7 linked regions of the Homo sapiens genome follow. The protein of the gene in region 4 purifies or fractionates together with the protein of the main gene of each other region. This does not show direct contact. Each region holds a gene or a part of one and is shown on either strand. Other genes may lie near its edges. The genes, in order: COPG2, GPR89A, EVI5L, SEC62, ATP12A, CLCN2 and EVI5.

Region 1 (4,267 bases), on a different chromosome or scaffold from region 4:
TTATTGAAAATTACTTATAAACTAGTTGTAAAATCAAGTTAGATACTTTAATGTTCTTACCTTTGTTTACACTCAGTCCACTTGATGTGCTATTGACTGAACACTTCGTGAAACCCCATAGCCTTGGTTTCCACAATAGCCTACATGTTTCCATCACTCCTCACTCTTATTTACAGAGCTCCTCTTTCCAGCACCATTCCTTAAAATATTAGTTCTCTGTAAGATTTTGACTTCTCAACATCTACATTCCTCTTGGTGATCATTTTCAGAGCTCTGCTAATAGGCTGTGACATTCCAGTCATGTCTCTTTCCTGAACTTGTTTGTCCAAATAACTTAAAGCACTTCAAACTCAACCTGAAATTCAAACTAACCTCACATTCATCATCCACTCAGTTATCAAGATAGAATCTTGTTCTGCTGCCTTACAGCCCCTATCTGTTCTTTAGCAAAGCGCTTTCAATTGTGTCTCCTTAATATTTCTTCATTCTCTTCTATTTTCTTGGTGCTGATTGAGGCTGTCATCCGTTTCAGATCCCTAGCTATCTGACTGCTTCTAGACTCACATATATCCTGCCTATTCTTTACACTCTGCTAAAAAAAAAAGAAAAGGCGGGGGGGACTTTCAAATGTACAAATTTATCTCATATTTAATATCCTTTAATAATAATGTTGAGATTAAACCATACCCTAATTTTGTTTTATTGCCAGTCTCTCCCTTGTCTCTTCTTGCTCTCCAACATGGGTCCTTTGCTCAGCCTTGCCCAACTGTCCAGTAATACACCACACTTTCTTCTCTGGGCAGGGGCCATTCGAACGTGTTATTTTCTCTGCCTCTAATACTCTTATCCTGCCTTTTTCCTCTGGCTAACAGTACTTGGTCTTCAGATTTTAGCTCAAGTAATATGTATTAACTCTTTGTCTTAGTTTTCCACCACCAATTCGGATTTAGTTCCTTTCTGTGTATTCACATAGCATCCTGGATATATTTCTTCCATGGACTTACCTATGATGTCTTGTAATTGTCTCTCTACATACCTATCTTTCCCACTAGAGTGTAGCTCCTTGAGATCAGGGACATGTCTTTTATCTGTCCCAGTACCTAGCACAATTCCTGACAAAAGTTTGGTGAACAATGAATCTTTGTTGAATGAGAGGAATTTTAATAATAGAATTTCTTTTTATGCTTGGGGCTGGTTGTTTGAGATTAGAGCTTAATGACATCAGTGTGATATATAAGGGGTTGTGGTGGGGTGGAGATATAGCTCCTACAGAAAATCTATATGAATCTTTTTCCTCAATTTTTGGAAGATTTTCCTATTCAGAGCTCTCTTGGGCTTGCAGAATTCTATTTATGCTTAACAGTATCAAAGAAATAAGATCAAGAAACACTCAATAAAACAAGGGAGTTTATCTCCACTGAACATGGGGACACTTTTCTAATTTTTTTTCAAATGGTTATTGGTTAACTCTGAGAAACCAATATTTATGTACCATAATTGTATGCTTCATTATAGCTGCTGTGAGTGCTTTGGCTAAATTTGGGGCTCAGAATGAGAGTCTTCTCCCAAGCATCCTTGTACTCTTACAGAGGTAAGTTAAATAATGTCTTTTCTAAAAAAAAATAAGAATTCTATATGGTTAAACAGTGAAATCCTCATTCTACCATAGGGCGGATGCACTCTAAGCCCTAAGAGTAGAGTTATTGGAGCAAGTCAGGGGCAAATGGCAATTCCTTTCTCTTTTTAGTAATTATGTATACCTCCCAATCAATTTGATGTGCTATTGACTGATCACTTCATGAAAGCCCCTAGCCTTGGTTTACACAATAGCCTACATGTTTCCATCACTCCTCACTCTTATTTATAGAGCTTCTCTTCCCAGCCCCATTCCCTAAAATATTAGTTCTCCATAGGGTTTTATTTGCTAGGTACATGTCACATTTGATTTTGGCTTTCTCTCACATGATTTTGAGAAAGTGACTTAAATACATTTGCCTCAATTTGTACAACAGGGGCTTACTTAAAAAAACTGTTAGGTAATTCACTATGCAGAGTTAAAAATAATAGTTTTTCATTGTCTTCATGACTCTATTTGATGAGGAAAAGACTTGCTTTAGCAAACTGTGATTGCATCTTATAATTGAAGCAGATAAATTACAAGCCAAAGGTTGGCTAGTTTACGTAAAACAAATTGTCATTTGAGCAAAAACAGTGGCTGGATTTTGAATTTATCTTTTCAGTATCCTTGGAGAGTATAATACTCCCATTTCCTAATTACAGAGAAGTCTAAGTCTTCAACAGGGTCATGTAGTTACAGATGGAAGAAAAGACTCCAGACTGCTATTTCATGTTCTTGTGCTCCTCGTTATTTTAATGCCTACTTATGTAGTGCTTGTGATTCACAGTAGCAGTATTTCTTTAGTAATTCAGAGCAGTACCCAAGATTTGTGAAGACTTTAGGAGCCACTGTTGGCTATTGTTGAGCACTTTTTTAAAGGTAGTATCAGATGACGACCTGAGCTGTGTCCTTTAGATTTGGTAGTAGAGCTATTGGAAGTCTTTGGGGTACTGTGACATGACTATTCTGTTTCCCCTGGACAGGTGTATGATGGATACTGATGACGAGGTACGAGACAGAGCTACCTTCTATCTGAATGTGCTGCAGCAGAGGCAGATGGCACTAAATGCCACATATATCTTTAATGGTCAGTGAAAGCCAAGGATGTACACTTTTGTTCCTCAAATGGTGTCTTGGAAGCATATTTTATGATTTGCATATGAGCTAACTTCACTAGGCAAATGCTTGGTTTTTGTCTTTGAGTGCACTTCCATTTCTAGAGAAACCTGTGTTTATAGGATATTTTCTAATTTGGTAATGATAATTCCTATGCAGCAATCTATAAGAATATAGATTGGGCCCTTACATTTTTTAGGAACGTTGCTCACTTATTCCTGGTTCTCCTTGAACTCCCTCTTGGATGGGTTTACATTTTTCCCGTTTTCTTATGCTATCATTGTTCCCATATAGCTAAGTTGCTTTCTTTTCTGGGAGGTACATACATTTTGTTGAAAATGTGTATGCTATGCTCCCATGTTTCCTTGAATGAAATAAGTCAGTTTATAAGTTTATAAGGTAATTTCAAGAATATCCTTTATTTTTATATTTAGGTTATAAAGCTTTTGGTTATATTTTTCTCTTCCTTCAGAAAGCTTAGATAAATATTACAAACCTGGGCCTATTTGGATTCGAGGATTGGCAAGAGGTTATAATGCTGAGATTTCTCTATGTTTCACAGGTTTGACGGTCTCTGTACCAGGGATGGAAAAAGCCTTACACCAGTACACGTTGGAGCCTTCAGAAAAACCGTTTGACATGAAATCAATTCCTCTTGCTATGGCTCCTGTCTTTGAACAGAAAGCAGGTTCACTCTATTCATTTTTCTGTGTATAAGTAGTTTTGCAAAACTAAAAAATATTAGCATATTTTCTCTAATACTCATTTAATTGTCACTCTTTTTTTTTTTTTTTTTTTTTGAGATAGAGTCTCACTCCCGTCGCACAGGCTGGAGCACAGTGGCGCGATCTCTAGTCACTGCAACCTCTACCTCCCGGGTTCAAGCGAGTCTCCTTCCTCAGCCTTCCGAGTAGCTGGGATTACAGGCATGCGCCACCACACCTGGCTAATTTTTCTATTTTTAGTAGAGACTGGATTTCACCATGTTGGCCAGGTTGGTCTTGAACTCCTGACCTCAGGTGATCCACCCACCTCGGCCTCCCACAGTGCTAGGATTACAGGCGGGAGCCACCGTGCTCAGCCGATTGTCACCCCTTCTAAATCTTTTAGATTTAAGACATATTTTTATTAGAGTTTAAAAAAAACTCCTGGTTTTTACATAAAAGCAGTAAGATGAAATGCACTCCAAAATGAAGGGTTTTTTTTAATGCAAAGCATTACAGTATCTGAAGTCAGTTGCCACTGTGCATCTCAGAGCAGTAATAGTGCTGTCGCCTCCTATTTTTATTTTCTGAAGTTGATAATCTCTAAGTTAATTGATTTTGTTATTGGAGGTTCGTCTTAAAAGAATTTATGGGCGACAATCATAAAAAATATTCCCAAAGAATATCTAATCTTAAAACTTAAAAACAAAAACAAAAGAAGTCATAAATGTTTAGTGGTTAGAACACAAAACTGGGAAGAAACAATTTTATGCTTATTTTCAACATTTTCAGTTTTTCTGTTGATATAAGTAATTTTTCCTATTTTGAT
Region 2 (4,267 bases), on a different chromosome or scaffold from region 4:
ATAACCCCAAAATGTGCATACAATATCAGGTTTTAACCCCAAATTAAAACTTCCTTCGGCTCGGGCATTATCTTCTCCAGAAAATCTGTCCTAACCCCTTACAGATTGGTTTGGTCTCCCTCTTTCATATTGTTTTACAATATCATGTATGTATTTCTATCATTGCACATCCATATTATGTTATAATTATTTATGTACTGTCTTCACTATATTGTGAGCTCCTAGAGGGTAGTAACCATCCTATTCATCTTTGTATCCTCAGCACTTAGCATAGCACGTAGGAGTTATTACAGAAAATTTAAGATTGAATGCTGAAGAATAAACCATCTTTTATGTAGACCACTTAGCCATTCAGCAAGCACTTATGGAGAGCCTGCTACGTACCAGGCTTTGTGCTGGATGCCAAGGATACAAAGATTACAAGACAAACATGGTTTTTGTCCTCATAGAGCTTATAATCTAATGTCAAAAAATATTTAAATCACACATTACAAAACTGTATGGTAAGCACTTTGATGAGGGAAGTACAATGTAAAACAGGATTATATAAAAAGCAATTTATCTGCATTTGGGAGGGCAGAGAGGGCCTTCCAGGGGGAGTAAATAGCATAACTGGGAGAGGGCTAGAGAGAAGTTCCTTTCAGAGGACATCTACACAGGTCTCGATGTGAAAGAATATGGATCTAAAGAACCAAAGAAGTTCCAGGGGGCTGAACACATGAGTTTGCTAGGCAGCAGGGGCATGATAAGAAGCTAAAGTAGTCTGTGCTAAACTACTGAGTTTACACTTGCTCAGTAAAGTAGTCCCTAGAAAGACATAAAATCATTTTATTCATAAAGGTCCTAGCCAGTTTAAGAAGAAAAGAGTAGTTGTGTCAGTGTGTATGTATAGAAAGTTCTGTTTACTACAGACCAGCTTTATCAGCTGTCATGTGGCTACGGTCTCTGCCAGTTTGAAACAAAACTGACGAAAGAGGGATCCTGCAATCTCTCGGCTTTACATTGAGATGAAAACCACTTTTATGTAGATTAGGCAGGATGGTGGAGAAGCTAAGAAAACTCTCTGAAGGAAACAGATATAAAAAATATTAGGCTTTCTACTACTCCTCTAATTTTGGTCTCAACTCCTCTCCCCTGAAGTTTTTATTTTTTAAATTAATTTATTTTTATTTATTTTTTGAGACAGGGTCTCACTCTGTTGCCCAGGCTGGAGCGCAGTGGTGCAATCATGGCTCACTGCAGCCTCAACTTCCTAGGCTCAGGTGATCTTCCCACCTCAGCCTCCCAGGTGGCTGGGACTACAGGCACACCCCACCACCCCCAGCTAATTTTTATGTGTGTGTGTTTTTTGTAGAGACGGGTTTTCACCATGTTGGCCAGGCTGGTATTATTTTTAAATACTTGCAATCAGGGATCATCCATAAGAAGCAAGTCTCACTCTGACACCTTTTCTTTTTTTTCGAGACCTAGTCTCACTCTATCACCCAGGCTGGAATGCAGTGGCACGATATTGGCTCTCTGCAACCTCTGCCTCCCAGATTCAAGCGATTCTCATGCCTCAGCCTTTGGAGTAGCTGGGAATACAGGTGCCCACACCCAGCTAATTTTTGTATTTTCAGTAGAGACGGAGCTTTGCCATGTTGGCCAGACTGGTCTTGAACTCCTGGCTTCAGGTGATCTGCCCACCTTGTCCTCCCAAAGTGCTGGGATTACAAGTGTGAGGCACCGTGCCTGGCCACTGACTCCTTTTCTATTTGCAAACTTCTCTGGCTCATATAATGATTATCATAAGATTATGGCAAAATATGTACTTCCATTTTTGTCTTAAAGCATACTCTGTAACATGGATAACTTCAAAACTCCAAGGGCATTTAAAAATTTATTTCCAATGTCATGAGCTTTAATAATAGGTCTTATAAGAGTGGATCTTATCTTTAATCCCTGAAATAAGTTAACCGTCTAGTTAGCAGACCTTTTATCATAAAAGAGTTTCTATAAAACATTTCTCAAAAGAAAATATGTATTGACATTCTATTTTCTTTCTCCTCCAGATACTATTTTTTGGATTTGGGTGGCTTTTCTTCATGCGCCAATTGTTTAAAGACTATGAGGTGAGAAGAAATCATTTTGTCATACTTACACTATATGATTTAGATTGACAAGAAAAATGTCTCCATTAAAGAAACATTATGTTCATTTCCAAGATAGGAAGCTTTTACCAAATAAGTACTATATAACTATTAGATTGCAGAATATAAGTAGACTTAATTGATTTAAAAGGGGGGAAAAAAGGCAAATCAAATATAGCCCAGAAGTTAGGAGCAAGGATTATGTCTTAGTCATATCAGGATATGTACCAATAGCAAATAGTTATTCTGTAGGAGAGAATTTAATTCATAATGTCTCACAAATGTTCCCTTTCATTTGTCTATCTGGCCCTGAATTGCAAACCTTATATTATAAGTTAATACCAAAATCCCAAGGCTATCAGGGGAACCAGTCCCCAATATTTCAACATAGGTTCTTTCTGTTTTCCTTAAGTGTCGGCCGGTCTGAGAAATAAAGAGAAAGAGTACAAAGAGAGAAATTTTACAGCTGGGCCTCCAGGAGTGCCATCACATATTGGTAGGACCGTGATGGTGACTCCGAGCCACAAAACCAGCAAGTTTTTATTAGGGATTTCAAAAGGGGAGGGAGTGTACGAATAGGGAGTGGGTCACAGAGATCACATGCTGCAAAGGGCAGTAAAATCACAAAGCAGAGGCAAAAATTAGAATTACTGATGAGGGTCTGTGTCCCACTGTGCACACATTGTCTTTATAAACATTTTAACAGGAAATAGGGTTCAAGAGCAGACAACCAGTCTGACTAGAATTTACCAGGCTGGAATTTCCCAATCCTAGTAAGTCTGAGGGCACTGTAGGAGACCAGGGTGTATTTTAGTCCTATCTCAACCGCATAAGACAGACACTCCCAGAGCGGCCATTCATAGACCTCTCTCCCAGAATGCATTCCTTCCCCAGGGTTATTCCTTGCTGGAAAAAGAATTCAGCAGTATTTCTCCTACTCGCTTTCTGCAAGAAGAAGAGTATGACTCTATTCTGCCCAACCCCGCAAGCAGTCAGACCTTATGGTTATCTTTCCGTGTTCCCTGAAAATTGCTGTTATTCTGTTCTTTTTCAGGGTGCACTAATTTCATATTGTTCAAACACACATGTTTTTCAAACAATTTGTACAGTTAACGCAATCATCACAGGGTACTGAGGTGACATACATCCTCAGTTTACAAAGATGACGGGATTAAGAGATTAAAGTAAGACAGTCATAAGAAATTTAAAAAGTATTAATTTGGGGAACTAATAAATGTCCATGAAATCTTCACAATTTATGTTCAGAGATTGCAGTAAAGACAGGTGTAAGAAATTATAAAAGTATTAATTTTGGGAACTAATAAATGTCCATGAAACAATTTATGTTCTTCTGCTGCGGCTTCAGCCAGTCCCTCCATTCGGGGTCCCTGACTTCCCGCAACACAAGGCTGGTGTTGTTTTTATCTTAAGCTTTGGATTCAGAAGATCACCACCCTAGACTCGACATTTCCTAGTTAGTTCTCCTAATTAGTAATAAGATCAGTGGTTATAGTCTACATTTGGGTCATTTCTAGGATATTCTCCATTAAACTTTCCCAGGGAGTTTATTGTCTGAAAGAGCCTGGGATTCTGGAGATTTTCTTCTGCCCAATACTTTAAGACCTCCCGAGGAAGGTTCCAGAACTGATCCAGGATCTGCAGAGTGTTGAAGAACCCCTTTAAACATTAACCATTATGTACGAATCTGTCAGTTTTTTGTCAGTATGCATCAGGAATTCTAAGTGCTACCTATGACCCTGTCACTTCATCTTCTTGTCCTCAAAATTCTTCATCCACAGGAGGATGCTGGTAATAGTGACTCAAGATTCAGAAGTGCCACCTATATTGATCTTTTTCTTTAGCTCCAGGCAAGTTGCTGTTGTGGCCCTACTTCCAATGACTTGAGAATTTCCTCAAAATAAGTTTTCTGACTTGTAACCAGAAGGAGGTTATCAGTTCAGTTTTTAAACAAGGAAATAACTTCTAGTCTCTGTTTGGCTTTTAACAGATACGTCAGTATGTTGTACAGGTGATCTTCTCCGTGACGTTTGCATTTTCTTGCACCATGTTTGAGCTCATCATCTTTGAAATCTTAGGAGTATTGAATAGCAGGTGAGTAAGAGTACTGAAAACTCCTC
Region 3 (4,267 bases), on a different chromosome or scaffold from region 4:
AACAGGGTGGGCATGAGGGGCTGTCGGATAGCCATGCTGAGGCCCCACATAGATCTCTGATGCCCCACATAGACCTCTGACACCGGGTAGGAAGAGGTTTGTTCTGTCCACTTGCTGAAGGAAGGCGTGGAGGAAAAGACTCCTGAAGGTCACGTGGTATCTCTCACGCACAGGAAACTAAACTCTACAGCCTCCCCAGGGTGGAATTTTGTGCAGAGACAGTGGGGTATGAAGGCTTCCCAGGATGACTGTGAACTCTATAGGAAACCACGAGGAGGACTTGTCAGTGATACGAACGCAGTTTTACCCGAGACTGGGCTCGTGGAGCTGCATCTTTGTTTGAGCTTTGAGGGGGCAGACGGATGAGGAGGAATGTATATTTCAATTTCCTCTTGCAGAATAGAGATGCCAGTTGTTACAGGGAAGCCCTGGGCCTGGAGTCAGATGTTGGGGTGTGAAGGAATGTAAGATGTGTACAATGTGGTCCCTGCTCTGCGTCTAAAGTCCTCTCACTGGCATGCGGCGGCCCCCGCCATGTGCTCAGCACCATGCCAAGCACCATTGACATATTATCTCATTTAATCCTCCCCAAAACTCGGAGGAACCAGGATTGCAGCACGCGCCCTTGCCATCCTGGCCTGAGGCCTGCTGCGGGGAGCATGAGACAGAATTATGTACAGCAGGCTGCAATGGGAGCCCGGAAAAAAAGCCTGATGCATCCCTGGGGTGTTGGGGAAGGCACAGCAGGGATGACGTATGGACCAGGTCACAGGCAGGCGTGGCAGGGAAGGGTGTTCCAGGCAGCAGAAGTGCTTGGACACACGCCCAAGAGGCAGGAGCAAGCGTGGTGCGCTCAGGGAGGCGTGTCCCTGTACTTCCTTTGATAGGCGTCTTACTACAAGCCCTTGTGTCCCCAGTGCCATCTGTACACTTGGCACACATGGTGGGGGGCTCCCCAGCAAAGGGGATCCCTAGTTGGGAGAACTTGGAAAGGCAGCAAAGCCGCCCTTCCCAGGGAAGACTGCAGCACACACATGCTAGCAGCCCGGGCAATAGAAGGAAGGAGGTGAGTTTAGGAGAACTAACTCAGCTCATCAGGGTCAGGGAGAACTAACTCAATTCATCAGGGTTAGGGAAGAGACTTACCCTTTTGAGGGAGATTTGGAAGGCCTCATTGGCATGACTCACCTGCACTTTCATTCATTTCTCAGCATGCCACGATATGCTTGTGAGAGTGTTTGATTGAAATCTGAGGCCCGGCACGGTGGCTCACGCCTGTAATCCCGGCACTTTGGGAGGCCGAGGCGGGTGGATCACCTGAGGTCAGGAGTTCGAGACCAGCCTGGCCAACATGGTGAAACCCCGTCTCTATTAAAAATACAAAAAAATTAGCAGGGTATGGTGGTGCACACCTGTAGCCCCAGCTCACTTGAACCTGGGAGGCAGAGCTTGCAGTGAGCCAAGAACGCGCCACTGCATGCCAGCCTGGGCAACAGAGCGAGACTCCATCTCAAAGAAATAAATACAAATTTTAAAAATTTTTAAAAAAAGAAAAATGAGGGTTTTGCCAGAAGGGAACCTATTATAATAGCCAAAAGTAATCTGGTCAGATGACAAGAAAGAAAATTTTTTTTTAGGTCAGAAAGGATTCTGCAGGTCAGAATGGTTCACTTCTCAGATTTTAGCCAAAGGTGTGTGCTGCTGTTGCTGCTATTGTTATCAATAAAGATTATTCTAGTTTTACTGTGTTTACTCTTTAAACAGGATCACCACAGAAAGGGAGGGCCTGTTGAAGAGGGGAAGTTTATTTATCCCACAAATATGGGATGCCTACTAGACTCTGAAGATCCAATAGTGGGCTAGACAGCCCCAGCCCCTGCCCTAGTAGAACTTTTCATCCAGAAGGGAATAAATATCACAGGTCAGGCTTGTCCTAAGCACATGACAGGTTTAAGCTCATTGATTCCTTCCAACAAAAACTGTGGGGTAGATACTGTCATTAGCCCTGTTTTCAGATAATGAAACTGAGGCAGGCCAGGTGCAGTGGCTCACGCCTATAATCCCAGCACTTTGAGAGGCCGAGTCAGGGAGATAACTTGAGGCCAGGAGTTTGAGACCAACCTGGGCAACATAGTGAGACTCTCTCTCTGCAATAATAATAATAATAATAACAAAATTAGCTGGACATAGTGGCAAGTGTCTGTAGTCCCAGCTACTTGGGAGGCTGAGGCAGGAGAATCACTTGAGCTCAGGAGTTGGAGCCTGCAGTTGGCTATGATTGTACCACTATACTGCAGCCTGGGTGACAAAACAAGACCCTGTCTCTAAAAATAAAATAAAAATAAAAATAAACAAAAAAAATTGAGGCAAAATACATCATACCCAAGGTTACAAAGATAGAAAGTGGTAGAGGAGGCCAGGAGCGGTGGCTCACACCTGTAATCCCAGTACTTTGGGAGGCTGAGGCGGGTGCATCACCTGAGGTCAGGAGTTCGAGACCAGCTTGGTTAACACAGTGAAACCCCGTCTCTACTAAAAATACAAAAATTAGCGAGGTATAATGGCGGGCATCTGTAATCCCAGCTACTCAGGAGGCTGAGGCAGGAGAATTGCTTGAACCCAGGAGGCAAAGGCTGCAGTGAGCCAAGATCGTGCCACTGCACTCCAGCCTGGGTGACAGAGGTAGACTCGGTTTCAAAGAAAAAAGAATAAAAAGAAAAGAAAGAGGTAGAGGAAGGATTTGAACCCAGGCTGCAAGCTCTGAAGTTCTCACCTGGAGCCAAGAGATCTGGGATAACAACCTACATTCCAAGGCCAGGGATATGGAAACTTCCAGAACCATGTGGAGGAGCAGCTAGACTGGGCGCAAGAAGAGATCAGGCAGGGACCTCTGAATTCAAGCCGCTGTTCTTGTTATCCAAGGGGCAGCTCACCTGTCAGTTGTCCGCCCACACCTTGCCAAGGACGAGAGGACCTAAGGTGCTAGGTTGGGCCATTTCCCCAGAGGTCAGAGCCAGCCAAGACAGCAGCAGTCTGTCAGGCTAGACAAATCGGGGTCACATGGCATCTTGGGCTTTAGATTCCGAAATGAGTCTGTGTCCCTGGTAATCATTAGACATGGAGGAATCAGAAATGGGGGGTAGGGCCGGGCGTGGTGGCTCACACCTGTGATCTCGGTACTTTGGGAGGCCGAGGCGGGAGGATCACCTGAGGTTAGGAGTTCAAGACCAACCTGGCCAACATGGCGATACCCTGTCTCTACTAAAAATACAAAAATTAGCCAGATATGGTGGCACGCACCTGTAATCCCAGCTACTCGGGAGGCTGAGGGAGGAGAAGTGCTTGAACCCAGGAGGCGGAGGTTGCAGTGAGCCAAGATCGTGCAACTGCACTCCAGCCTGGGCTACAGAGCAAGACTCTGTCTCAGAAAAGAAAAAAAGAAGGAAATGGGGGGTAGGGGAGTAAGGGAAACAACATGGAAAGGAAACTCGGGGTCTTCATTGCTGTCTCTGAAAATGCCACAGACTGAAAGATGCATCATATGTGCTCGCCCTCTCTCACCGTTGAAAAATAATGACTGTTTTCACTGAGTAACCCCTGCACTTGGGGTTTCACATACGTGTATCATTCCCAAAGTAAAAGAATACAGACAGAGCTGCAGCACAGCGGGTGGATTTAGGGCAAAGGCTATACAGTCAGAAATCCAAGTTCAAATCCTTCTTCCTCCTCAGCCTAGTCAAGGGACTCTCTGTGCCATATGGCACTTGTGTGTTAAAGCCGTCGTTGGCTTTTCTGCTTACACTGTACAGAAATTTCTATTTTTATTTTTTTCATTTTTTTTTTTAGACGGAGTCTCTCACTCTGTCATCCAGGCTGGAGTGCAGTGGCGTAATTTCAGCTCACCGCAACCTCTGCCTCCTGGGTTCAGCCTCAGGAGTAGCTGGGATTATAGCCATGCGCCACTACACCTAGCTAATTTTGTATGTGTGTGTGTATTTTTAATAGAGACAGGGTTTCACCATGTTGGCCAGGCTGGTCTCGAACTCCTGACCTCAAGTGATCTGCCCCCCCTCAGCCTCCCACAGTGCTGGGATTACAGACATGAGCCACCGCACCCAGCCTTTATTATTATTTTTAAAATAGACTTGGGCTGAGGCAGGAGGATCCCCTGTGGCCAGGAGTTCAAGACCAGCCTGGGCAGCAGAGTGAGACCCCTGTCTCAAAAATAAAATAAAATGGCCAGTTGTGGTGGCTCACGCCTGTAATC
Region 4 (4,267 bases):
CGTCTCTTTCTTTACTGTTTTTAATGATTTGACATTCATTACAAGTTTTAAAAAGTAGATGTGCTAATCTCTTCAGATATAATATGTTTAGCTGTTTCTTGTGACAGCAGTGGATTGTTGACAGAGCTTCTTCCTCAGTGTATTAGAGTAAAACTTGATGAGAATTTTTATTACTTGCAGGGAGTGGTGAACATTTTGGTTTATCTACATATGCTTGTGATTAATAAGAGTGATAGTTACATACAGATATTTTAAATTTTTGAATATTTCCCCATTAATTTAACTTGCTTTAGTTGGTCTTTCTGAATGCCATTATTTCCCAACATTACTTTTAAAAGATACTTAATATAGTTCACAAGTTGAGGTTTTGGGGAACTACTAATCATGATCATGTTAGATTTAGTTTTCTGTTGAGTTTGGTTTTCTTTTTTGTTGCCAGAGTGTTGAAATTTTACTTTATAAAATATTATTTAGATAGACATAAATCCCCATGTATGCTAAATTTAAAATAATGAATTTCTTCTTTAGCTTCAAAAGCAGTGGACTGTCTTTTGGATTCAAAGTGGGCAAAGGCCAAGAAAGGAGAGGAAGCTTTATTTACAACCAGGGAGTCTGTGGTTGACTACTGCAACAGGTACTGTTTATTTCTTAGTGAAGAATAACATAATAATTTTAAATTTTCTTCATAGTCCTGAAGCTCCTTACATCATTAAATGTAGTGATACTACAACATAACTCAAATACTGTTTTCACATGTAACCTGATTTCTTTGGTACCTCTGGAAATGTGTTTGGTATTAGACTATTATACTTTTAACTGTATATAATTTTTATTTATGTTCTATTTTATATATTTGTGAGCCCTACTGAAGGGTCAGCAACAAAAGTCATATACCAGTGCCTACAGTAGAAAAGAAAGTTTTTTCTTTTGTAGAGCAAATTGGTTGAGGAGTCTTTTTTTCAAAACTTTTGCAGGAATTCCTATTAGCTGTGTTACCGCTACTTTTTTAGTGCCTGCACCCTGAGCCATAAGCCTCATACCCTTTCCTATTTGGTTCAGTGTTTGCTAATGTAGTATTTCTTCTAAAATCAAGGAAGCTGCAACATCTACCTTATCTTTTTCTGAGAATTTCAAGATGAAATACAGCTAATTCAGTAATATACATATATTTTTCATAATAGATACTTTTTCTGTTTTGAAAAAACTTTTGATGTTAAGTGGTTTACCTAAAAGACAAAATCACCTTCCTTTTGGAAGGAAGTATGCTGGTTTTTCTTTCCATTTCTTTTCTTTTTTTTCTTGGTTTACTTAATACTAAGCATTTTCTTAATATATGTTAACTAAATTTTGTTTTCATAACACTAAAGCTTATCTTTTGGGATTTTAGATTATTTTATGTGTACTAATATTTTATTTAATGGCACCTAAAGTATCAGCCACATAAGAACCCTCTTAAAAACCACTATTTCACAACCTGGTTTCTTAAGCTGTCAAGTTAAAGAATTATTGAATATTTCTTAAAATTCTTAGTTGCCAAAGACTAGAGGTTACTAACAGACCTTTTAGAAACAGTAGGTTTCGGCCAGGCACAGTGGCTCATGCCCGTAATCCCAGCACTTTGGGAGGCCGAGGCAGGTGGATCACAAGGTCAGGAGATCGAGACCATTCTGGCTAACAAGGTGAAACCCCATCTCTACTAAAAATACAAAAAATTAGCCAGGTGTGGTGGCGGGCACCTATAGTCCCAGCTACTCGGGAGGCTGAGGCAGGAGAATGGCGTGAACCCGGGAGGCGGAGCTTGCAGTGAGCCGAGGTTGCGCCACTGCACTCCAGCCTGGGCGACAGAGTGAGACATTGTTGAGACAAGGATGAGCTAACACTCATGCAGTTGATATTTGCTTGTCTTTTGTAGCAACTTGTCTAGTTAGAATTAGCTCCAGCAAGCATATATCCAGGGCAACTTGAATCTGCTCGTGGGGAAAAAATAAAAAGGTGAATAGAATTAGCTCCACGGTACAAACTTCCAGGCTGGGCACAGTGGTTCACGCCTGTAATCCTGACACTTTGGGAGACCAAGGCAGGGAGATCACATGAGGCCAGGAGTTCAAGACCAGCCTGGCCAACATAGCGAAACCCCATCTCTACTAAAAATACAAAAATTAGCCAGGCGTGGTGGCATGCACCTGTAGTCCCAGCAACTTGGGTGACTGAGACATGAAAATAGCTTCAGCCCGGGAGGTGGAGGTTGCAGTGAGCCGAGATCGCACCACTGCACTCCAACCTGGGTGACAGAGCAAGACTCTGTCTTAAAAACAAACCAAAAAGTACAAACTTCCTTACCTGCCACAAAACTGATGTATTTTTTACATGTTGTGTAAAAATTAAGAGATGCTACAAATGCAGAAACTGGGGCACAGAGAACTTAAGTACTTTATCTAAGGCTACACAGCTAGCAAGTGGCAGATCTAGGGTTCTACATCTAGCAGCCTGTCTCCACAGTCTGTGTTCTTAACTACCGCTCTATACTGTCTCCTCCAACAAAATGACGATGCATTTAATGGAGCTATTAGATCTGTAAGCCCAAATCTCTGAGTAGAGCAGCCAGTATGAATCCACATTTTTTGGCTTTTTAGGAGCCTTGGTACCTTGTTATTTGAAAAGCTCAAAAGACCTGAGTACAGAGAGTGTCCAAAGACACTCGATTTTCATTGTATACGCTCTTCCCACTGATGTCAGATTGTTTGAGTCCTTTCTGCACTAAAATAAATGAGAATAGCATAACTTTAAGGTCTCCAGAGCCACTTCTAATATAACCGTAGAGTCTTATTGGCCAGTTCTCATGAGTTGCTGCCCAATAGCAGACAAAATCACAAAGGGTCTCTTGACCAGTTTCTTTTTTTCTTTTTTTGGCATCCTCCAATACTGTCAGTTTTTCTGAGGCAGCTAAGTGGCATGAGGGAGTCTGAGGAAAAACAAAATAGGAAAATGTAGGATGATAAAACAATCTTTTCTAATGTGATCTATACCTTTTTATGGCCTATATCATGAATGAACTCATACATACTAGGTTAAGTCTCCACAAGACTTTGTATCACTGACCCCCAATCCAGTTATGTCGTCCTCAGTCTTGTGCACATGCCACACTCATTTTTTCTTCTAGTCTTTTTCCTATCATAACTTGCCACTTTCCCTAAACGGTTCTGTTTCCTCTGTCCCACCTGCCTCTCAAAATCACAAACAAATCCCTCAAGTCCTTCCTCTACCGAATGTACTCTTCCCCAGGCCCTCCAGCCTTCATCAGCCTTTGTATCTAAAGTTCTACTGAGTTTATCAAGTTAGTACCTCCCAGTTTGGCCCTTAACTATTTTAGAATTGCTACATATGTGTGAGTTTTTTTAAAATCTCCTGCCAGCTAAATCTGAAAACAATTGTAAGACTGTTTTATACTTTATTGTAACTCCATAGCAATTACCACAGTGTGAGCACTTCATAAAAACTCACCTTTGCCACATTGGTGGAAGTCCCCAACATGTCTGGCATTTAATAAATGTTTGTTAAATCTGAAAAAAAAATGGAAGTGAAGGAAAAAAATACAGAAGTAATTTTTTAAATGTTTTAGAAGCTGTTTTAAAACCACTTACTCAACAAATAGTCTAGGCTCCAGGAATACAATAATAACTATGACTTGGTCCCTACATCAAAACATATTCTGATCTGTTAGGGAAGATTTATAACTAATCACAATGCAGTGTGTTGAATAAGGAAGAGAGAGATGGTGAAACTATGAAGAATGACATCACACAGAAAATGTTTTAAGTAAATTTTGAAACATAAATAGGTGATTACCCAACAAACAAGAGAAGAAAGGAAATTCATTCCAAGCAAAGGGCATAGAACACACCGAGATAGGAAAGTATGAGTAGTTGTGTAAAAATGTCAGAGAGTTTTATGTTAGTAATGTGTTCTATGTCATGGGTTTAAAGCCAAACAAACGGAGGCTCTGATACTATACAAATGTTAAATAATGTCAGTCTCATCTTTCAACCTAATTGTGAAATTATTTTCAACACAATTTGATTGAAAGTTAATAATCTACTTTTCTTTCGTGGGGGTGGGCAGCTGTGCAGGAAAATTGACAGAAGCAGATGATCCTGCTGGTTCTATTGCCTTCAGTATCTACTCATCAGGGAAAAGGCTTTTTTCTACTAAAGTTGCATTGTTTGTTTTTAAAATTCTTTATTAAGAATCATTTTTTCCACTAAAGTAA
Region 5 (4,267 bases), on a different chromosome or scaffold from region 4:
CCACAGGGCCAGGTGCAGGCTGCATAACAGCATGGACTCAACAGTGAGAGTGATCAGGAAGTTCCAAGGCCTCTGTCCTGGGGTTCGGTGCGGCACAGACTTGGGGGAGGGCCGGTGTCCTTCCAGGGTCTGAGGCATCTGTCATGGTTTTTTTCTGCAGCAAGCTCTCGTCATCCGAGATTCCGAGAAGAAGACCATCCCTTCAGAGCAGCTGGTGGTGGGGGACATTGTGGAGGTCAAAGGAGGAGACCAGATCCCTGCAGACATCAGGGTGCTGTCTTCTCAGGGGTGTCGGGTAAGCGGCAAGGGGTATCCACCCCAAGGACCATGTTCCAAACCTGCTGGCTCTGGGGTCTTTCCCAGCATCAGTATAAGAGGCAGGGAATGAGGTACCCAGCTGTGAACCACCTTCAACATTTCTTCTAGGTGGATAACTCATCTCTCACGGGGGAGTCTGAGCCCCAGCCCCGCTCCTCTGAGTTTACCCATGAAAACCCCCTGGAAACAAAGAACATCTGCTTCTATTCCACAACGTGTCTGGAAGGTAAAAGGCCTCTGGCTCTCAGCCCACATGTCCACCTGTGTCCTTTCTCCCTCCTGGGCTCTCAGGTCTGTCCTTTGCCACACCCCGTTACAAAGCTCATCCCAGAGGAAGCATGGAACTGAAGGGCCTAGAGGACGATGCTTGGCCTTGGGAATGTGGTGTGCCTATCGATTGTGCCAGCCCCCAGAGAGGGCTGCAAGCTGGCTGCACACCCCTCCTGGCTGAGGACCCCTGGAATAAAGCATCTACTTCCCCTGTAGGCACTGTCACCGGCATGGTTATCAACACGGGTGACCGCACCATCATTGGCCATATTGCCTCATTGGCCTCAGGAGTTGGAAATGAGAAGACGCCCATTGCCATTGAGATCGAGCACTTTGTTCACATTGTGGCAGGAGTGGCTGTCTCCATCGGCATCCTTTTCTTCATCATCGCTGTGTCCCTGAAGTATCAAGTCCTGGACTCCATCATCTTCCTCATTGGCATCATTGTGGCCAATGTGCCCGAGGGCCTCCTGGCCACTGTCACTGTGAGTCCATGCTGTTAGACAGCCTGCACCTGGCCCTGTGGACACAGCACTGGTGCTGGGGAGGCGCCCACACAAACTGCAATCTCCCCCAAGTCCAGAGCACCACGCCCTCCCCGCCAGCGACAACCCTGGAACATTCTGCATAGACTGTTCCTTACAGAGACAAAAAATTTGTCATATTTTCAATATTTGACTGCGTTTTCCTTGAAAACGTTATGCTTTCAATCTGCAATTCACACAGCTTACTCTGCCCCATAAGATCTAGATAAGACAGACTCCACCATTCACAGGTTTTCTAGAAGCTTGATGCCTTCCGCACATTTCTTTGGCAGTTTCTACAACTTAGGCATTTAGGCACATTGCCACACTCCACTTACCTCTCTTACGAAAAAAAAAAATTCCTCCCATTTTTCCTGCCGAGGACTCCAGCCCTTTCCTGGCCAACCCCAGACCCAGCTGTTTGTATGGGCCCATGTCATTCAGTCCCTAGAGAAGAGCCCCCTCCTCCTCAGTCTCTCCTGTGGGGGTCTCAAGGGGTAGGAGAGGAGGGGGTTTATGTTTCCAGTTTTGTGACTACATGATCATTGGCCTGCTATTGTCCTGACCAAAGAAAAGAGAAGAAGTTTTTGAAGTCCAGGTCTCCTCTGACTCCAGGAGATAGTAATTTGGGGAAATTGGAGCCAAAAGAACCCTTTGAGATCTAGGGGTTTAAAAGAATCTTTAAAATATGGAGCTTTTAAAATGAAACAACATAAAGGCTGCTGAATTCCCCAAAGCAACAAGTGTGTCCTTTGGGACAACTCTTTGGCATGCACTGGTCAGTCTCTCTTACACACTCCTGCTTAGGGATCACAGGAGGCGTCGTGATTGTACGTGAACACGAGCCACAGCAGCGTGTCCGTGTTTGCTGCCCGTGGGTCCCTTGTTTTCTTCAAGTCATGAAGGAACAAGAAAAGCATCTCATATTTAATCTTTAAAAAAGGATTGTGGCATAGAGGGCTCTTGGCGGCGTATAAGCCACCAGGTCAGCTTAGCTGCGCTGACAACCACACCTCTCCCCTAAAACTAGTCCAGCTCTCTCCTAAAATTCAATCACAGCTCACATTGGCTATTTCTGTATTATTGGACCTGAGTTCAAATGAGGATTTTTCCCAAAGCGTCCTTCCCTCTCCTGCTAGGTGACCCTGTCGCTGACAGCAAAACGGATGGCCAAGAAGAACTGCCTGGTGAAGAACCTGGAGGCTGTGGAGACCCTCGGCTCCACCTCCATCATCTGCTCGGACAAGACTGGGACACTGACCCAGAACAGGATGACAGTGGCCCATCTGTGGTTCGACAATCAGATCTTTGTGGCTGACACCAGTGAGGACCATTCAAGTAAGTCTTATGGAGAGCTCGGTCTGGCCAAAGCTGTGGACTCCATCCTGGGGCTGAGCTGAGCACACAGCAGGGTCTGCAGCCAGAGGATTGCTGGACAGTGACTCATGGACGGCCAGCCCAACCCACAGCAGCCACTGTTCTTTCTCTGTCTTCCAGACCAAGTCTTTGACCAAAGCTCTAGGACTTGGGCCTCCTTATCCAAGATAATAACATTGTGTAACCGAGCAGAGTTCAAGCCAGGACAGGAAAATGTCCCCATCATGAAGGTAATGCTTCTGCAGCACTTGGTCTTAAATCACAGCCAGTTTGTAGTCACTTGCTGAGGTCTGATTGGGTGCTTGATTTCATCTCTCCAGTTGCTTAAAGTTTGTTCAGTGCTTGCAAGAGCAAGTCAGACTCACAAGACATCCAGAAATTTTTCTTTATGCACACTAGCTTTGAGAATACAAAGATGCTTAAAAGGTTTCAGAATATTGCTTTAGCGTCTTCAGAAAATTCTGGAAATGAATGCACTTCTAAGTTACTTTCCTGACTTTTCTGCCAGCTAAGTGGATATAATCAAAGTTCCTTTTAATATACACACCATTCATGGAAATTTAAAGTGTGATTGAATAAAAATAAAAGGACTCCTGTTAACTAGAATATGGCTGCAGACAAAGCTCTAAGGGGTCCTGGAATATCGGAACATACAATAAACTCTCCCCCTCCCTCCCTCTCCTCCTTCCCTTCCTCCCTTTTCCTCTCCATCTCAATGAGTCACTGAATCCCTGTTCTCCTGGCTTTTCTATTTGCCATCTGTTTCCTTCCCTGACTCTTTTTCTTTCTTATTTTTTTGTTTGTTTGTTTGCTTTTCTCTCCGTCAGACAGCTCATGAATGCTCTTTTTGGCCAATTGCTTCTTTGTCGATATCTTCCAAATCTTTATGTCCAGCTCTAATTTCTTACCTCAACTCCAACCCGAATCTCTGGCTGGCTGTGTGCTTCCGCTAGGAAGTTGCACAAATCATGCTTGTTAACTTCCACCCGTACCCAGCCTGGCTGCACATCAGTGCCTTGCCGCAATTTTCTAATTGTCTATGATATAACCATTCTATTTGTCATTGGAACAGAATATTTGGAAGTCATCTTTGACTTTATCCTTTCCTTATATCCAGTAAGCCACCAAGTTCTATCATTCTTGCTTCAAAATATACATAACTTTAGTATTTGTCAGCAGTACCTTGCATCTAAATAGCCGATTACCGGCTGATTGGAATTAAACCTCTTTGATTCCGGTTTATCCCTCCTGGGGTCTTTCTCGAATGCCACTAATTTCCCTTAATGGTGCTTTTATAGTCACTTAACTTTGCTCAAAATCTCTCCGTACTTCCCTGTTTTCTGCTTCTCAAGTCTAGACCTCAGGCTACCTTTCAGGGCCCTCCAGGTCTTGCCACACCCTCCACATCCGCTTGTACCTTGAACACTCACGGACGAGCCTGCCCCTCATGCCCCTGCACCCGCATCCTGGTTTCTGGAAGGCTTTCTTCTCTGTGTATCGGTAACCCACCTATCTATCAAGATCTAGTTCGTAGCTGCTTTTTTCCACGAAATCTTCAGTCCTCGCAGAGGTCCAGCTTCTCCAAACATCCCTAATGCCAGTAGGTGGCACTGTTGTTTACACGCTTACCACGGTCTTGCGGCCCTCCCTGATCACGTGATAATGTCTCTCCAGCTAGGTGGTAATGGGATCAGGAGGGTGTGTTTTGGGTCCTATGCTGAGGGCATGTTGGTTCATTAAATATGTGCTGCAAATATTTTTCTTCTTTGATTCCCAGA
Region 6 (4,267 bases), about 14 Mb from region 4:
GTGACAGCTGGCAGGGGGAGGACTGGGAATAAACCTCCTGCGTCCATGCCACACTCGTCTAGACATGGAGGAAGGCGTCTTGGCTTCTTGGCCACTGACCACTTTCCCCAGCCAGTCTGACTGCCCAGATTCAGGCATCATCTCGGCCACTCCCACAGGGCACAGCTTCTTGCATCCCCTCTCCAAGTGATCCTCTTGCCTAGATTGCGCTTTGTCCCAGTGAATACCCTCAGGGACCCTTTCCTTCACCCATGCCCTGACTCTGTGTGGTACTCCCTGGGACAGCCTGTCGTATCAGCGTGGTCCACTGGCCAGGCAGGCAGTGGGTGTGTGCACTGGGGGTCCAGCAGGTCCTCTTCCCACAGCCCAGCAGTGGATGTCCCGGGGCTTGAACACCAGCATCTTGCTCCAGTACCTGGCCTGGGTCACCTACCCTGTTGTCCTCATCACTTTCTCAGCCGGATTCACACAGATCCTGGCCCCTCAGGCTGTCGGTATGTTAGAAGAGAAGGGGAGGGCAGAGGCGGGACCCCTGAAATGGGTGCATCGAATGCCTCTCCTGAGACTGTTCCCTCTCCAGGCTCTGGCATCCCTGAGATGAAGACCATCTTGCGGGGAGTGGTGCTGAAAGAATACCTCACACTCAAGACCTTTATAGCTAAGGTCATTGGGCTGACCTGCGCCCTAGGCAGCGGGATGCCGCTTGGCAAAGAGGTAACTGCAGGCTGGGGAATGAAGGAGTCCCTCCTGGTGGAAGAGGAGGCCAGGCCAAGGTCAGGGCGGGCCCCCTCCCGACTCACCGCCTGCCCCACCCCGCAGGGCCCTTTTGTGCATATCGCAAGCATGTGTGCTGCCCTTCTCAGCAAGTTCCTCTCCCTCTTTGGGGGTATCTATGAGGTAAGGGGAACCCTGGGGCAAGTAGGGGGCAGAGGCTGCTGAGCCCACAGCTGACCCCCTCTTGCCACCACTCTCGCCAGAATGAATCCCGGAACACAGAGATGCTGGCTGCCGCCTGTGCCGTGGGGGTGGGCTGCTGCTTCGCGGCACCTATTGGAGGTAGGCAGGGCTCCTAGGTCAGTCCAGCCCCACAACCCTGCCCTTGGCCTCTCCTCCTTGGCCCCTCTTATCTGGGTCTGAGGCCTTAGGCCAGGCCCAGGCCTCAAGTGCTGGTCTCCCTCCCCCTCACAGGCGTCCTCTTCAGCATCGAGGTCACCTCCACCTTCTTTGCAGTGCGGAACTACTGGCGGGGCTTCTTCGCTGCCACCTTCAGTGCCTTCATCTTCCGGGTCTTGGCAGTCTGGAACCGGGATGAAGGTGGGGGCACCCAGGGGATGAGGGCAGCCCGAGATGGTGCCAGGTAGGGGGCCCACGAGGCTAGGCCTGCCTCCCTCTGCTGTTCTTCCCTTTAGAGACTATTACAGCCCTCTTCAAAACCCGATTCCGGCTCGACTTCCCCTTTGACCTGCAGGAGCTGCCAGCCTTTGCTGTCATTGGGTGAGGAGCTGAGGGGGCTGGGGGTATCAGAGAGGAGGGGGGTTTCTAGAAGGCTCCTTTTCACTCAGGTGCCTCTTCCCTTTCCAGTATTGCTAGTGGCTTCGGTGGAGCCCTCTTTGTCTACCTGAACCGGAAGATTGTCCAGGTGATGCGGAAGCAGAAAACCATCAATCGCTTCCTCATGAGGAAGTGAGTGGCTCTCGGCTCCTCTCCAGGCTGCTTTGAGTTGTATAAGGGCCACAGTAGGTCAGGGGACAGTGATGGGGAGAGAATGGCCCAGTCAAAACAGGCACTTCACTGAGAAATCAGCCAGCAGTGTTTTCCAGGCTGACTGAGCATTTTTATATTCATATGAATTACCTGAAAATTGGCATTTTTAAGTTTATAGTCAGCGGTAGAGGACATTTGGGAATCAAAGACTAAGGCCTCCTCAGGTCCTCTGGGCTGGCCCATATAGGAATGCTCCCTGGAGAGTGTTTGAGCCTCAGGTTCCCCCCATGACCCATGGGGATAGATGAGATCTCTTTTTTTTTTTTTTTTTTGAGACGGAGTTTCACTCTTGTTGTCCAGGCTGGAGTGCAATGGTGCGATCTCGGCTCACCGCAACCTCCGCCTCCTGGGTTCAAGCGATTCTCCTGCCTCAGCCTCCCAAGTAGCTGGGATTACAGGCATGCACCACCACGCCCGGCTAATTTTGTATTTTTTAGTAGAGACAGTTTCGCCACGTTGGTCAGGCTGGTCTCGAACTCCCGACCTCAGGTCTGCCCACCTTGGCCTCCCAAAGTGCTGGGATTACAGGCGTGAGCCACTGTGCCCGGCCGAGATTTTTTTTTTTTTAATCTCCAGAACACAGCTCTCTCAGTGTGACCCTGAGGATTGGGAGTGGGGAGGGCGAGACATGACTTCCCTTGGGACTGACATCCTTCAGAGAGAGGGCAGCCAGCTGAACCTGCTCCCTACGCACCTCTGGTCAACTTTACAAGTGACCCCAGCTTCCCCCAACATTGACCTTCACTCTAAGTCACTGCAGAGAGACAAAGAGAGGCAGAAACTTCTCCACCCCATCACACAATATGCCCTGATGGGCTTCTGAGGGTGGAGGGTGGAATAACAACTCGGAGGGCCCCAAGGGAGGGCTTGGAGGATGGACTTTCTGCTGCTGCTACCCACCTACAGAGTCAGGGGCTGACAGAAAGGTCTTTGGGTCAGACCCCTGCTCTTAGAATAACCCCAGTCCACCATCAGCCTTGGGGCTATCGTATCATAAACAGCAAAGGAGACCTTCTGTCAGGACTGAGTGTTTTCATGAAAGAGCCAAGGCTCTGCTCTGACCTCAGCCCTGAGATATGCGAGGCCACCCAGCCCTTGGCCACCCACGACTGATGTGAAACCTACGACTCTAGACGCCTGCTCTTCCCGGCTCTGGTGACCCTGCTCATCTCCACGCTGACCTTCCCCCCTGGCTTTGGACAGTTCATGGCTGGACAGGTAACCACAGGCAGAACAGGAGTTTTGTGCTTTCCCTTGGAAGGCATTCCTCCAAAGCCAACAGCCCCAGTGTGACTGTGGGACCCCTTGTTCCCCGTGGGATCCCATGGCCTCTTCCCTTCATCCTGTCGGTTTCCCAGCCTGAGGCACCCTGTTCACTCTAGCTCTCACAGAAAGAGACGCTGGTCACCCTGTTTGACAATCGGACGTGGGTCCGCCAGGGCCTGGTGGAGGAGCTAGAACCACCCAGCACCTCACAGGCCTGGAACCCACCACGTGCCAACGTCTTCCTCACCCTGGTCATCTTCATTCTCATGAAGGTGGGCTCCTCACGTGTACACTGCTAACCTTTACATAGCTTGCCCTTCTAAGCACCTGCCACGCAGTGCTCACTCCTCGAAGCCTCTCCACAGTGCCATGGGAAAGGCACTATTATCACCCCCGTTTGAAAGATGGGGGAGTCGAAACACAAGTAGCTGGCCCAAAGTCACACAGCTAGAGGGCAGAGCGATGATCTGAACCCAAGCCATCTGCTTCCAGAGTCCTTCCCCTTGCCATCACCTGGGAGGCCTGGGGGTCCCAGGGTAGCTAGGAGGGTTACGGGGTGGCTGGGAGGGTTACGCCCACCTGATCAGCGAGGTAGACTTCTCCTGGGTGGCGCTGTGGGCTGCCTGGGGCCAGGTGGAGCCTCTTCGCCTTTGAACCACCCCCTGCCTGCAGTTCTGGATGTCTGCACTGGCCACCACCATCCCAGTTCCCTGTGGGGCCTTCATGCCTGTCTTTGTCATTGGTGAGTTCTCAGCTGCCTGCTCACCCAGCCTGCACCTTCCTCAGCCTCTGGCCACCCCCCCAGCCAACCCTCTGCCCAAGAGCGGGTTTTTGGTCCAGCCCTAGCCCGAACCCTGACCCCACAGGGCTGTGCCCTACACTGAATGACCCGTTGGCCCCTCCCTCACCCTCTGACCCTCTCTCTTCCTAGTGCCCCCTGCCCTCCCCCTCCACTGCCTCTTTCTCTTCCCACCCCCCTCCCTGAAGGAGCAGCATTTGGGCGTCTGGTGGGTGAAAGCATGGCTGCCTGGTTCCCAGATGGAATTCATACGGACAGCAGCACCTACCGGATTGTGCCTGGGGGCTACGCTGTGGTCGGTGAGTGCCTCAGGTCCCATCGGCCTTGGGAGACCCCCCCACCCACGCCCCAGCCACAGGGTCCGAGACTCTGGTGCCCCCTGCTGGCAGAAACCAGGCTTCCCTCAGATGCACAGGTCCAATCCCAGGACTGTATTGG
Region 7 (3,812 bases), on a different chromosome or scaffold from region 4:
CCTACTTTATTTTATTTCTGTAGCATCCATCACCATCTGACATATATATTAGTTGATTTATTCCATGTCTTGTCTGTCTCCCTCCATTAGAAATTCAGGTTCCTTGAGAATAGAGATTGTGTTTATTTTGTTCACTGGTGTATACCCAGAGAGAGAAAAGTATCTGGCTGTAAATCAGTATTTTGGGTTGAATTAATGAATGAGGCAAGTTGAGGCAGTTGGTTTCAGAGGTTGTAAGATTTGTTTAACTTCTCATTCTTGGTGATAGAATGGGAGACTAGAACTTTCTGATTCTTACCTCATTGCTCTTAACATTGCAGCACACAGCCACTCAAACAATGTTTGTGGTTGGCTGTGTACTTAGTTTAAATATCATTGGTTTATTTGTGTATCAGAGAACATTAACCTATGTTGTTTTTTTTTCTTCCAATGTAGATGCCAGAAGAAGAAGCTTTCTGTGTATTTGTTAAATTAATGCAAGATTATAGACTTCGTGAACTTTTTAAACCAAGTATGGCAGAATTGGGCCTTTGTATGTACCAGTTTGAATGTATGATACAGGTAAAAGTGCAGTGTTGATAAAAAGGCATATTGCCTTTATATTTTTTATATCTTGTTCTGAGTGCCAACTAAGCAAATTTAATGTTAAAAGCATTAAAGCACTTGAAGAAGTAAGTGTTTTAATTACATGATTGTTTTTTGGTTGGTTAATGTACAATTTGACCCTTCAAATTAGGTAGATCACAGTCTAGGACTTGACTCCAGTTTTCATATTCAATCCTTAAGCATTTCTGCCAAATGTACTATACACCCCTTACCTAAGCACATGAATTTCCTTATTATATCCTATTATTGTTACGTAGTCTAAGCTCTCTTACAGGAGCTTTATGATATTACACTGACATCAGTCCATTTACTTGGAGACTGTCTCTTTGAGTCCTCTCCTCTGCCTTTTTACTTTTATTTTATTTTTATTTTTTGCTAGCCCGTAATTTTTTTTCCTGTAATGTTTTCTTATGTTGCTAGTTTAAGACTCAAGTTATCTAGTGACTGTATGAAGGTGGAGAGAATAGGAGCAGAATCAAAATCAAGGGAAAAATACCTTTGAAGTATTTTACCTTTCTGGATTTAATTTTTATATTTTATATATTTAAGTTTGCTATAATGTAAATATTTTCATTTATTTCAATTTCAATTTCAATTAAATGAGCAGAATTTAAGAAAATAGGTGAATGAATCAGCTGGCATGAGAGCCATTTTTATTAGTTTCCTCTCTCCTGGCAGCCTTATAAACTCCAGTTTTTCCCATCTGTGGTGGGAGCAAGGGGATATGTAAAATGTTCTTATATTTTATTTTTTATTTATTCATTTATTTATTTTTGAGATGGAGTCTCGCTCTGTGGCCCAGGCTGGAGTGCAGTGGCGTGGTGTCGGCTCACTGCAAGCTCCGCCTCCTGGGTTCATGCCATTCTCCTGCCTCAGTCTCCCAAGTAGCTGGGACTACAGGTGCCTGCCACCACGCCCAGCTAATTTTTTGTATTTTTTTAGTAGAGATGGGGTTTCACCATGTTAGCCAGGATGGTCTCGATCTCCTGACCTCATGAACCGCCCGCCTTGGCCTTCCAAAGTGCTGGGATCACAGGCGTGAGCCACCGCTGTGCCTGGCTAATTTTTTAATTGACATACAATAGTTGTACATTATGGGGTACATATTTTTTGTTTTTATATATTTTAAAGAAAAAGCCAGAATAGGTTTTGAGATGATTTTTTTTTTTTTCCTGAGACAGAGTCTATCTAGCTCTGTTGTCCAGGCTGAAGTACAATGACACAATCACAGTTCACTGCCGCCTTGACCTCCTGGGTTCAAGCCATCCTCCTCCCTCAGCCTCCTGGATAGCTGAAACTACAGGTGTATACCACTGCACCTGAATAGTTTTTTATCTATTTTGATTTTTTATTTTTTAATTTTTGTAGAGACAGGGTTTCACTCTGTTGTCCAGGTTGGTGTTGAACTCCTGAGCTCAAGTGATCTTCCTATCTCAGCCTCCCAAAGTGCTGGGATTACAGGCATGAGCCACTGTGCCTGGACTTGAGATGATTCTTAATTAATTCTTTTCTGAAATAGTAAGCTTGTTTTTAGCAGCCTTAAACTCTCTTAATGTTATATTTTCAATTAATGTGTCATTTATGGCTGGACGCAGTGGCCCATGTTTGTAATCCCAGCACTTTAGGAGGCTGAGGTGGACAGGTCACTTGAGCCCAGGAGTTTGAGACCAGCCTGGGCAACATGGCAAAACCTTGCCTCTACTAAAAATAAAAAAAATTGGCTGGGCATGGTGGTGTGCACCTGTAGTACCAGCTGCCTGGGAGGCTGAGATGGGAGGATTGCTTGAGCTTGGGAGGCAGAGGTTGCAGTGAGCCAAGATCACACCACTGTACCCTAGCCTGGGTGACAGAGTGAGACCCCATCTCAAAAAAAAAAAAAAGTCTCATTTATGTTTTGAATTACTAGAGTTGCTGAAACATCTGTATTTTGAATATTTTTCCTATTCTTTAGGAAGGTAAGAATGGGTGATCAGTGGTAGATAGTGCCTGAAAGTATTTTAACATACCATTTATTTTCTTTTTAAACGTCTTTTTAAAATATTATAGTTGATAGAAGAGTATAGAAAATGTCAGTCACTCTTGTATCCACCAACAGGATTAAACAAATATAAAACTTTTATTCAGTTTCTTTTTATTAATAAATTAAATGTTATACTCAAAATTCCAACTTCACATTCTTTCCCCCTTCTTTCTTTCCTAGATACTAGCCACTGTCCCAGATGTTTCAATGTCTATGTCTTACCTTTTCCATATGATGCTTGATCTAATCTGTGTTTGGTATAGGCTAATCTAGTATAAATATAATCTAATTTAAAATACTCAGTTTTACTGTGTTATAACTAATTATTTTCTTCTCTTTAGGAGCATCTTCCAGAGCTCTTTGTACATTTTCAATCTCAGAGTTTTCATACCTCAATGTATGCATCATCCTGGTTTCTGACTATCTTTCTTACAACTTTTCCACTACCAATTGCAACAAGGATATTTGATATCTTTATGTCTGAGGTAAGCTAATGGGCAGACAAAGAGCAGGAGCTGAGCAAAGGGGTCACTGAGTTAGTGAGAGCAGGGCAATGAGGAGAGCAATGAAGGAAAGCCATGTGTCCCATGCAAAACTGCTTACATGGATAATCTCATTTAAACCTTATAATAACCCTATCAGGTAGATACTGTTTTTATTGCATTTGTTAGATGATAGATGAGGAAGTTGAGACTTAGAGAAAGGTTAAGTAGCTTGTCTATGGACACACAATACATAAGTGGTGTTGTAACCAGGATTCAAACATAGGCAGTTTGGAGCCTACACTGTTAATCATACCTCTTTATCACCTCCTAACTCATACAGTGAAAGTTAGTGAGAGGTAAAATTTGTCTTACAGTTAATATTGTTGAAATGCATCTGTCATCCAAAGAGTAAGAAGTAATAAGCATGTTTCTTCTATGAACACATTGCAGGTTGTTGTCCTTTTGTCAGTAGCACATAGAGGTAATCCTTTGTTTTCTAGTCTGTGAACTCAATGTTGTTATTAATTACATCTTGGGAAAATCAATTTGTATTACCTATCTAAATTAGTTCAGATCACAGTTGGTCAGCTGTGATTCATGTACCAATCAGATGGACAGATTTTTGTGCGAAATCCATTCTTCCACACCTGTTTTTTATAAAGTTTTCCTAGAACACAACCCTGCCCATTTATTTATATGTC

The links.
Region 1: the proteins of SEC62 (region 4) and COPG2 purify together in Homo sapiens (affinity purification with mass spectrometry; one large-scale study listed by BioGRID and IntAct). This does not show direct contact.
Region 2: the proteins of SEC62 (region 4) and GPR89A purify together in Homo sapiens (affinity purification with mass spectrometry, with the first as the bait; one large-scale study listed by BioGRID). This does not show direct contact.
Region 3: the proteins of SEC62 (region 4) and EVI5L purify together in Homo sapiens (affinity purification with mass spectrometry; one large-scale study listed by BioGRID and IntAct). This does not show direct contact.
Region 5: the proteins of SEC62 (region 4) and ATP12A purify together in Homo sapiens (affinity purification with mass spectrometry; one large-scale study listed by BioGRID and IntAct). This does not show direct contact.
Region 6: the proteins of SEC62 (region 4) and CLCN2 purify together in Homo sapiens (affinity purification with mass spectrometry; one large-scale study listed by BioGRID and IntAct). This does not show direct contact.
Region 7: the proteins of SEC62 (region 4) and EVI5 purify together in Homo sapiens (affinity purification with mass spectrometry; one large-scale study listed by BioGRID and IntAct). This does not show direct contact.

What each region holds. Positions count from the first base shown.
Region 1 is NC_000007.14:130,549,679-130,553,945, reverse strand, and holds part of COPG2 (coatomer subunit gamma-2), read left to right. Parts: intron 1-1,515; coding exon 1,516-1,591; intron 1,592-2,601; coding exon 2,602-2,705; intron 2,706-3,296; coding exon 3,297-3,422; intron 3,423-4,267. UniProt on the Homo sapiens protein: The coatomer is a cytosolic protein complex that binds to dilysine motifs and reversibly associates with Golgi non-clathrin-coated vesicles, which further mediate biosynthetic protein transport from the ER, via the Golgi up to the trans Golgi network.
Region 2 is NC_000001.11:145,614,183-145,618,449, forward strand, and holds part of GPR89A (Golgi pH regulator A), read left to right. Parts: intron 1-2,051; coding exon 2,052-2,111; intron 2,112-4,137; coding exon 4,138-4,241; intron 4,242-4,267. UniProt on the Homo sapiens protein: Voltage-gated channel that enables the transfer of anions such as iodide, chloride, bromide and fluoride which may function in counter-ion conductance and participates in Golgi acidification.
Region 3 is NC_000019.10:7,832,812-7,837,078, forward strand, and holds part of EVI5L (EVI5-like protein), read left to right. Parts: intron 1-4,267. UniProt on the Homo sapiens protein: Functions as a GTPase-activating protein (GAP) with a broad specificity.
Region 4 is NC_000003.12:169,976,418-169,980,684, forward strand, and holds part of SEC62 (translocation protein SEC62), read left to right. Parts: intron 1-528; coding exon 529-634; intron 635-4,267. UniProt on the Homo sapiens protein: Mediates post-translational transport of precursor polypeptides across endoplasmic reticulum (ER). Proposed to act as a targeting receptor for small presecretory proteins containing short and apolar signal peptides.
Region 5 is NC_000013.11:24,690,178-24,694,444, forward strand, and holds part of ATP12A (potassium-transporting ATPase alpha chain 2), read left to right. Parts: intron 1-160; coding exon 161-295; intron 296-426; coding exon 427-544; intron 545-786; coding exon of another isoform or gene 787-804; coding exon 805-1,073; intron 1,074-2,251; coding exon 2,252-2,450; intron 2,451-2,609; coding exon 2,610-2,719; intron 2,720-4,266; coding exon 4,267-4,267. UniProt on the Homo sapiens protein: The catalytic subunit of a H(+)/K(+) ATPase and/or Na(+)/K(+) ATPase pump which transports K(+) ions in exchange for Na(+) and/or H(+) ions across the apical membrane of epithelial cells.
Region 6 is NC_000003.12:184,354,409-184,358,675, reverse strand, and holds part of CLCN2 (chloride channel protein 2), read left to right. Parts: intron 1-365; coding exon 366-494; intron 495-580; coding exon 581-714; intron 715-819; coding exon 820-897; intron 898-977; coding exon 978-1,056; intron 1,057-1,188; coding exon 1,189-1,314; intron 1,315-1,409; coding exon 1,410-1,494; intron 1,495-1,581; coding exon 1,582-1,683; intron 1,684-2,897; coding exon 2,898-2,982; intron 2,983-3,146; coding exon 3,147-3,302; intron 3,303-3,702; coding exon 3,703-3,772; intron 3,773-3,961; coding exon of another isoform or gene 3,962-4,017; coding exon 4,018-4,128; intron 4,129-4,267. UniProt on the Homo sapiens protein: Voltage-gated and osmosensitive chloride channel. Forms a homodimeric channel where each subunit has its own ion conduction pathway.
Region 7 is NC_000001.11:92,694,609-92,698,420, reverse strand, and holds part of EVI5 (ecotropic viral integration site 5 protein homolog), read left to right. Parts: intron 1-435; coding exon 436-561; intron 562-2,967; coding exon 2,968-3,111; intron 3,112-3,812. UniProt on the Homo sapiens protein: Functions as a regulator of cell cycle progression by stabilizing the FBXO5 protein and promoting cyclin-A accumulation during interphase. May play a role in cytokinesis.